Linked DNA regions of Homo sapiens. The protein of the gene in region 2 purifies or fractionates together with the protein of the main gene of each other region. This does not show direct contact. Each region holds a gene or a part of one and is shown on either strand. Other genes may lie near its edges.

Region 1 (4,986 bases), on a different chromosome or scaffold from region 2:
TTTTATTCTTGAGACGGAGTTATGCTCTTGTTGCCCAGGCTGGAGTGCAGTGGTGCAATCTAGGCTTGCTGCAACTTCCACCTCGCGGGGTCAAGCGATTTTCCTGCCTCAGCCTCCCAAGTACCCAGGTAGCTGGGATTACAGGCGTGTACCACCATGCCTGGCTAATTTTGTATTTTTAGTAGAAACGGTTTCACCATGTTGGCCAGGCTGGTCTCGAACTGACCTCAGGTGATCCACCCACCTCAGCCTCCCAAAATGCCAAGATTACAGGCATGAGCCACCACGCTCGGCCTAATTTTGGTATTTTTAGTAGACACAGGGTTTCCTCATGTTGGCCAGGCTGTTCTCGAACTCCTGACCTAAGGTGATCCACCCACCTTGGCCTCCCAAAGTGCTGGGATTACAGGCGTGAGCCACTGTCCCCAGCCCGCTTATGACATTTTAAAAGATTATAGGAATTGCATTAAATCTGTAGATCAAATTTCACAAGAACTGGCAATTTTTCAACACTGGGTTCTCCAATCTATGACTATAATATTTATCTCCATTTACTTAGGTCTTTAATGTCTCCCAATAAAGATTTATAGTTTTTCATAATACTTCATATTTTTATGCTATTATAAATATTGATCTTCTTAAAATTTAATTTCCTAACTTTGTTACTGGTATATTGAAATAAGATGGAGTAATATTCATTGTATTAGTATTAATTTTATTTCTATCAAAGAATGTTGTTAAACTTTTTTATTAACTACATTAGTCCCCCCTTATCTACAGGGGGGAGGTTCCAAGGCCCCTGGATGGCCTGAAACCACTGATAGTACTAAATCCAAATCACTGTCATTCAGAACAGACTTCTATCTTCCACCCACAAATTTAATGCCTTTTCCACCATAACTAAGTACTTATGTACTGTGGCCATTACTTTTGCAATATGAAGTATGACAGCAAAACTATTATGATATTTATTTATTTATTTTTTAGACGGTCTGTTTTTTGCCTTGGCCGGAGTGCAATGTTGCAATCACAGCTCATTGCAGCCTTGACTTCCCAGGCTTAAGCGATCCTCCTACCTCCCAACTAGAAGGGAACACAAGCACATGCCAGCACACCCAGCTAATTTAAAAATTTTTTTTGTAGAGACATGGTCTTACTATGTTGCTCAGGCTGGTCATCATACAATTTTTTACTTTCCATACAAAGTCAAGAACTTCAGGCCGGGCGTGGTGGCTCACGCCTGTAATCCCAGCACTTTGGGAGGCCAAGGTGGGCAGATCACCTGAGGTCAGGAGTTCGAGACCAGCCTGGCCAACATGGCAAAACCCTACCTCTACTAAAAATACAAAAAATTAGCTGGGCATGGTGTTGCACGCCTGTAATCCCAGCTACTCGGAAGGCGGAGGCAGGAGAAATGCTTGAACCCGGGAGGCAGAGGTTGCAGTGAGCTGAGATTGCGCTACTGCACTCCAGATTGTTGAAGTTTCAATACCCTCTTCATGGGGAGAGAGACATTCAGGGAGGGGTTGTGTAGGCAATTGTGAAAGGTAGTAAATGATATTCAGGAGAAACGAATGAGCTCCAAAAACCATGTCCTGGGACAAAGTTCCTCTGAGCTCCGGGGAGGGGTGGCAAGCAAGTGAGGGGAGGAGCTTCACTGAAGAAAGGTTGTCTTATGCAAATAGTTGCCCAGGTAATCTCTGAGTTGCCCTCAGAATTGATGAAAAGTCTATCTGGGTGTCGTGACAATTTTTAGTCTCCTCTTCGGTGGTTCATCTTTAGTGGTTATTTGATGAGATTCCTAGGGAAGGGGTCTTAAAATAACTGCTTTTCTTTTGGAAAGAAGTTTCCTTAGAAGGAATTCCAGAGAGGAGTCCCTTCCTGCTCTTGGGGTAGTGGGGAGACAGGAGAGGTCAGAAAGTCCTTGATTCTGAGGCAGCTTCTGCAAGCCTTTTCTATTTTTTTTTTAATTTATTTTTTCAACTTTTATTATAGATTAGAGGGTACATGTGCAGGTTTGTTACATGGGTAAACTGCATGTTATTGAGGGTTGGAACCCTTTCTATGTTGAATTCAAAGTGTTCAGTATGCCAAAGTGCCAAACCTTTGGGCCATAATTTTTTTTTTCTTTTTTTTTTTTTTTGAGACAGGATCTCGCTCTGTCACTCAGGCTGGAGGGCAGTGGCCTCCACATCCCAGGCTCAAGCAACCCTCCCAGCCTTTGGCTATCATTTTCTGAGTTCCAACACAGCCCTTGTAGCTTCAGAATCTTTCTGCCTGCCAAGTCCTTTCTCACTCCACTACACCAGGCTGCTTCTCAAGTCTCCTCTTCACATCCATTTCCTCAGCTGTAAGGTGGGGATAATTATGCTTCACTCACATAAGTTGGAATATGAAAGCTCTTTGAAAAATGCAGTGTATTCATTGCAAAGGGCTGTGGTGGTGGGTGGTGATAAAAGGAGTAGTGGTTTGGTATTGACCTAGATGTTAGAAGTGATGAGTCGGCCTTCCAGCAACTTTAATTAAACTGCCAATTTTTAGCTCAGAGAGGCAGTTTACCAAACTCTGCTACGCATCAGCATGTTCGGAAGAATAACCCTCAATGCCTGTTGAATGGCTCTCTTGGGGAAAAAGATGATTTGATACCAGACACCCTGCAAAAGGAGAAGCTTCTATGTGAGTAACAATCAGTATGTGTGACCTCTAGAACCTCATTGCCTAGTAACTCCTCTGAGTATTCAGAAGAATCTGCTCTAACATGGGAGAGGCCAGGGAGCAGCCTTGGCCTCTGTTTCTAACACCATTCAAAACTTCTCTCTAAATCTACTTTGGATTACAGGTTTAAATCAAAATACTGTATTTTCTAGCCGGGCATGGTGATCACGCCTGTAATCTCAGCACTTTGGGAGGCTGAGGTGGGAGGATCACTTGAGGTTAGGAGTTTGAGACCAGTCTGACCAGCATGGCAAAACCCCAGCTCTACTAAAAATATAAAAATTAGCCGGGTGTGGTGACACACACTGGTAATCTCAGGACTTGGGAGGCTGAGGTGGGAGGATCACTTGAACCCAGGAGGCGGAGGTTGCAATGAGCCGAGGTTGGGCCACTGTACTCCAGCCTGGGTGACAAAGTGAGATTCTGTTTCAAAAAAAAAAAGAGTAATACACCTGGCATCGTGGCTCACGCCTGTAATCCCAGCACTTTGGATTGCTGAGGCAGGCAGATCACTTGAGCTCAGGAGCTCGAGACCAGCCTGGGCAACACGGCAAAACTCTGTCTCTACAGAAACATACAAAAATTAGCTGGGCATGGTGGCAGGTGCCTGTGGTCCCAGCTACTGGGGAGGCTGAGGCAGGAGGATTGTGTGAACCTGGGAGGCGGAAGTTGCGGTGAGCTGAGATTGCGCCACTGCATTCCAGCCTGGGCAACAGAGTGAGACCCTGTCTCAAAAAAAAAAAAAAAAGTAATACATTGATTTTTACAGTTTGATGGATAATGCTTACTAAGGCTCTTTGCATAGGAGCAGTGGAAAACAGTTCTAGCTAGCTTACACAAAAAAATAATTTTTTGCAGAGACACAGGTTTCTTCTAAAATCCAAGGGGAGGAATCCAGTTGAACTTCTCCCTCAAACCAAACACTGATCCACCCCTCTTTTCTCTACAACCCCCCCTGCTTATCCCCAACCTCCACCGCTACCCTTACACCCCCACCCTCAGAGTCCTACCACCTCCCATCCAAGCTGTCATCATTCAGCCTCCTAATTGGTCTCCTGGCTCCTCTTGTTCTGTGCTGCCCCGCCCCCTCCAATCAATTTTCCACATAGCAGTGTTTTTTATATGCAAATCTGATTAGGTCCCTTTTTTACTTAAAACCTTTGAATGACACAAGATCTGAAAACCGTAAAATACAATATTGTTTTGTTTTGTTTTGAGACGGAGTCTCGCTCTTGTCGCCCAGGCTGGAGTACAGTAGCACTATCTCAGCTCACTGCAACCTCTGCCTCCCGGGTTCAAGCTATTCTCCTGCTGCAGCCTCCTGAGTATCTGGGATTACAGGCGCCCGCCACCACTCCTGGCTAATTTTTGTACTTTTAGTAGAGACAGTGTCTCGCCATGTTAGCCAGGCTGGTCTCAAACTCCCAACCTCAGGTGATCGGCCCACCTCAGCCTCCCAAAGTGCTGGGATTACAGGTGCGAGCCAACACACCCAGCCAATATTGATAATTTTTTTTTTTTTTTTGAGACAGAGTCTTGCTCTGTCAAAAGGCTAGAGTGCAGTGGCTCCATCTCGGCTCACTACAACCTCCGCCTCCTGGCTTCAAGTGATTCTCCTGCCTCAGCCTCCCGAGTAGCTGGGACTACAGGCACGCGCCACCATGCCCAGCTAATTTTTGTATTTTTAGTAGAGACGGGGTTTCACCATGTTGACCAGGATGGTCTTGATCTCTTGACCTCGCGACCCGCCTGCCTTGGCCTCCCAAAGTGCTGGGATTACAGGCATGAGCCACTGTGCCCAGCTGATAATTTTTAAAGGAAAAATTTAAACTTCTCTTTGGAAAAAATACCATTGATAAAGTAAAGGACAAACTAAAAAAAAAAAAATTTGCAACAAATATGCCAAAGGGTTCATTTCCTTTACATATAACAGCTCTTTCAAATCAGTAAGTGTTAATAAAAGATGATTGGGCTGGGCACAGTGGCTCATGCCTGTAATCCCAGCACTTTAGGAGGCCAAGGTAGGCGGATCACCTGAGGTCAGGAGTTCGAAGCCAGCCTGGCCAATTTGGTGAAACCCCGTCTCTACTAAAAATAGAAAAATTATCCCAACGTGATGGTGCCCACCTGTAATCCCAGCTACTCAGGAGGCTGAGGCAGGAGAGTCGCTTGAAATTGGGAGGCAGAGGTTGCAGTGAGAGGAAATTGCACCACTGCACTCCAGCCTGGGTGACAGAGCGAGACTCCATCTCAAAAAAAAAAAAGATGACT
Region 2 (4,986 bases):
TCTGCAGCACGGGGATGACCGCGACACCTGTCACCAGGAAATGGAACCAAGGAAATCCCTAATGAGAGGTCAGCAATGCCAGCACATTGTTTAGAGCAAGCTAATGAAAACCCCAGACTTTAAGAAACTCCGTTTTAATCTACAATACTGGCAGTTAATATTGGAAGCTATTTTAAAAATGTAATTAAAAATCATCACTTCCATGTTGTTTACACTTTCTTTTTTAAACAAAAAGGCTGTTTAATTGTCACAGTTTCTTAAACTAAAATCGGAATAAAACGAAACATTTCCTACAGGGTCAAGGATGTAAGGTTTCTGACTACACTGACCTTCCACAGAACCACTTTCCAGCGTGTGGCAGCCCTACCACTGGTGAGGCCACAGCCATCCCTGTGCTCCTGGGTCAACTTTGAGCAAGAAATCAAGTAAGTTCCACTGTCTGCAATAAATGCTAGCAAGACTGATTTTCCAGTTTTAGGGTAAAAGACCTTTCCTCTCAAGTTACTTGGCCTTCATTAAAACCTAAGAAAAACAAAAACGACTGGGTTTCAGAAAACACAAAGCACCCAGGAGGGTCCCCTGGCTCCCCACAGCTTCCTATCTGTGAAGCCAGCAGCAGCAGCATAGCTACTGTTTGCTTCCAGCAAAAATGGAAACCAAAACTAAATGGAAAAATAAGAAAAGCCTAGTGCCCAACTTCCCCTCGACCAGAGTGATTCTCAGGATTGTTTGTAGGCTCTTTGCAGTCAAGGCATTCATGCCTGGAGGGGAGGGTGAATGGAATAGGCTTTGCCCAATTAATTCCGTGTCCTCATCAACCTGTAAAGCAAGTGGTCCATAAGCATGAAGGTGTGCCAAGTAACTTTCCAAACTAAAGCCTCTCATCTAGATCCTTCCAACAGGACACAAGGACTTCTAGAAGTCATAACACGTCTAGACACAGGTGTGGCTTCAAACTATATTGATTTACATTTAGTTATAAACATTAGAACAACTTCCCCTCAAAAACAATGTTTTGGGCTTAGATAACAGAAGCCAGAAGTTACTTATAAAGAAAGCTTAATTTCGTTACATAGTATGGCAAAACCTAAGCGGAGATTTAAAGACACAACATCCTAATAGAAGTTAACTTGGTTCCATTGAAAACCCTCTTACGATCACAAGTGCTAACTTCCTTTCTAAAGGGTTGGAATAGGTTTGCACTCCTACCATCCGCAGTCTGCTCTTTCCTGGTTGTACGTTTCACTGATTCCCAAGTTCTGTTCAGGCAGAGAAGAAAAAAAAGTCATTAGTGCTACAGAAGAGAATTTTCTTAGGTTTTCTCTGTACAACCAGAACTTCTTAAATGCAATGCATGCAAATGTACTCATGATACTGGTCAAGAAGACCACAGCAATAAACGTCTGCATTAAAGAAGCTAATTCTGCTTTCCTATAGCTTCTGAAAATTAACAACGAAAACTCTTGCCACCCTACACCTCACCTTCTGGGTGCCCCCGAAACAGAAAGCCTGCTAAGCATGTGAGCTGCCGCTTTCTCAGAAAACTTTAGTTTGGATCCTATGTCTCTGGGCAAGGAGCACAGCCAGTGACAGATTAATAAGCAGGTAATGCAAATGAAGCCATAGGAAAAGACTCACCCCGTCTCTAGGAACAAAAGCTACTATGGACAACGTGAACTATTGAGATTTTCATATCATTTTGATTTTTAAAATATGTGACCTAAAACACACAATTTAAGAAGGTAGAACCTTCCCATTTATTAATGGAAGAATTATTAAATGTAGGCAAGTGCCCCTACTTTGCATGTGTGAGATCTTATCTAGAAAAAGTGGGCTGAGTAACAGCACAGTCCTGCTCTCTTGTATGGCTTTATTCCTGGTTAGCTATTGGTTTCTGACTGTTACCCAACTCAGCTTTTGGGTAACATCTGTGCTATTCTACTTTCTGGCCTTGGAACATGGGGCACAGTTGTACAGGAAACCCAGTTACTGACACAATTATGCAGTTTAAAGGGGCGAGGCATAAAAGGAACATTCTCCCTTCACTCTCTTCTCCCTACAACAGAAAAAAGCAGTGGTAAGAGACCAGAGTGGAGAAGCAAACAATTTTAGGATCTCTTTTAAAGGAAGTGAAACATGTGGGTGGCTCTGGGGCTTGGGATAAAAAGGAGTTACCACCTGCATCTCGATAGTAAGAGCTGCAAGATATCCTCCTCGGAACCCTCCTGCTCATGCTTCCTATCCGGCTGTCCTTAAAATTTGGACCTTGTCATATTTTCATTAAAATTGTTCAAATATTTAATTTGCTTTTTAAAAAACAAAACAAAAAGACTGTCTGGAAATTGTAGGTCTTTCAGCATTGTACCCAAATTCCGAAGGCCAAATATGTCAAAATGAACACAGGAAAATCAAACAGACTTCTATGACAACTCACAGCAGCCCAACATTCCTGTTAGTAGCAAGGAGCTGACCAACAAGCAATGCTGGTAAGTAAATCATACAGATTGCAAGAGATGAACACCTTTTGGCATAGCTCTCTCTGCTGCCTCCTAAGGTTAGTCCTAAAGACTGAAGAAGACAGTGCTGGGAAAAGCACTGAAGGTCCCATCCCAAACACTAGGAATAAGGGAAACAAAAAGAGGAGCATCATTATCGTGGTTAAGGTGAAGGAAACAAGCAGTAACGAGCCATAAATCACCAGCAATAAAACAGAAACGCATTGATAAGAAATCTCGGAATAAGATTGCCCAGTGAGAGCTCCAACAACTTCAAAGGGCCTGTGAGATGCACAGCTGACTGGAAGTCAGCTCTTCGTCTCTACTTGCCCGCCAGCTAAGCCCAGAGCTCCAGCCTCCCTGAGGCTCTTCCCTCCTTTGTAAAAAGCAGGAATGAGTATGTTTTCTCCAAAACCTCTTCTAGCTTTAGGATTCTGCTTCCAGTGAGATCATCCTATTCCTAGTCTTCTTTGTTATGGAAAAGCCTGTTGGCCTTCCTCCCTCTAGTTCACCAACACAAGAGGCGGGAGGGTCAGAGGGTGACTTCGGCACTGTCTTGAATGTCAATAGACACAACACTACTGGAATATTTTTATATTTCTAAAATTAACCCCACATCCCCTTTCATGAATGAGACGGTGGAACATAGGATTCTCTAGCTGCTATTTTATCTCTTAGACTCGGCCCTTCATATCCGTGGGTTCTGCATTCATGGATTCAACCAACCACCCATTGAAAATATTTAGGAAAAAAATTGCATCTATACTGAACAGGTCCACACTTTTTCTTGCCATTATTCCCTAAACAATAGAGTACGACTGTTGACACAGCATTTGCATTGTATTAGGTGCTGTGATTACTCTAGAGATGAAGTGCGTGGGAGGATGTGCATAGGTTAGAGGCAAATACATACTGAGTATCTGCATTTTCATATCAGGGACTTCAGCATCTGTGGATTTTGGTATCTGCAGGGGGTCCTGGAACCAACCCCGACAGACACCAAGTGACAGCTGTACAGGTTGAGTATTCCTTACCCGAAACGAGGGGCCGGAAGTGTTTCAGAGTTTGGTTTTTCAGATTTTGAAATATTTGCCTTACCCTCTGGGTGTCATGCAGGCCTTTTTGACATTTTGAACAGTATCTTTACCCCACAGAGCAGGAAATAAGCCAAAGAACCCCACAATGAGTCATGCACATAGGTCTCAGCCCTGTGTAGGGTGTTGTGGGGAACTGCTGCTGGGCATCCGGTCTGCACACATGCCATTTCATGACCCTCTGTGGGAGTACCTGCAGAGGGAAGTCGCCGTGTGCGTGCAAAGGATATATCGGGCCGGGTGTGGTGGCTCACGCCTGAAACCCCAGCACTTTGGGAGGCCAAGGTAGGAGGACTGCTTGAGTTCAGGGGTTCGAGACCAGCCTGGGCAACATAGTGAGACTCTGTCTCTACTAAAAAAATAAAAATTAAATAAATTTAAAAAAAAAGGATATGGCCGGATGCGGTGGCTCACGACTGTAGTCCTAGCACTTTGGGAGGCCAAGGTGGGTGGATCACCTGAGGTCAGGAGTTTCAGACCATCCTGGCCAACAACACTGCCTCTACTAAAAATACAAAAATCAGCCAGGCCCAGTGGCATGCACCTCTAGTCCCAGCTACTCGAGTGGCTGAGATAGAATTGCTAGAACCAGGGAGGTAGAGGTTGCAGTGAGCTGAGACCACACCATTGCACTCTAGCCTGGGCAACAGAACAAGACTCTGTCTCAGGGTAAAAAAAAAAAAAAAGAAGGATATAGCTGAGCTGAAGGGGAGGGTTCCTTTTCCCCTGGGGGGACACTGAATGTCTGTGTTGTATGCCTGTGTTCTGACTGCAGCCTGTCACACAGAGTCAGGTGTGGAATTCTCCAGCTGGGGCATCATGTTGGCAATGAAAAGGTTTTGGATTTTGCAGCATTTTGAATTTCAGATTTTCAGATTAGGGCTGCTCAACCTGTACACGCAGGCTTTTATATCAGGTCAGAGATAACACATCCTATAAATTATACATCGTGGCATACAGGAAAGTACAAAGACTCATTCTTCAAAGGGTGACATTCTGGTATAAAATATTAGTGCTTTACATAAATCCTCTTCAGAGGCCAGGAAAAAAACCCTATGTATGGAAGAATGGACATGACCATGCTATAAATATGGTAGTTTGGTGGATTTTAGAGCCTACTCCCAATCTACTGAAATAGATATTCTGAAGTGAGATTTCGTCGTATTTTCAGAAAAGTCCCCATATGATTCTGATGTACATCCCTGATTAGGAAATGCAGGAAGGGCAGAAGACCAGTCAGGCGAAGAGATGAGCTGGCGCGAACACATCTTTTTATTTTATTTTTATTTTTTGAGATGGAGTCTCGCTCTGTCGCCCAGGCTGGAGTACAGTGGTGCAGTCTCGGCTCACTGCAACCACCTCCTCCCGGGCTCAAGCAATTCTCCTGTCTCAGCCTC

What was found.
Region 1: the proteins of NUDT5 (region 2) and AGBL2 purify together in Homo sapiens (affinity purification with mass spectrometry; one large-scale study listed by BioGRID and IntAct). This does not show direct contact.

The regions. Positions count from the first base shown.
Region 1 is NC_000011.10:47,708,067-47,713,052, reverse strand, and holds part of AGBL2 (cytosolic carboxypeptidase 2), read left to right. Parts: intron 1-2,541; coding exon 2,542-2,676; intron 2,677-4,986. UniProt on the Homo sapiens protein: Metallocarboxypeptidase that mediates deglutamylation of tubulin and non-tubulin target proteins. Catalyzes the removal of polyglutamate side chains present on the gamma-carboxyl group of glutamate residues within the C-terminal tail of tubulin protein.
Region 2 is NC_000010.11:12,177,874-12,182,859, forward strand, and holds part of NUDT5 (ADP-sugar pyrophosphatase), read right to left. Parts: intron 2,617-4,986; exon of another isoform or gene 2,522-2,616; intron 1,260-2,521; coding exon 1,210-1,259; intron 28-1,209; coding exon 1-27. UniProt on the Homo sapiens protein: Enzyme that can either act as an ADP-sugar pyrophosphatase in absence of diphosphate or catalyze the synthesis of ATP in presence of diphosphate.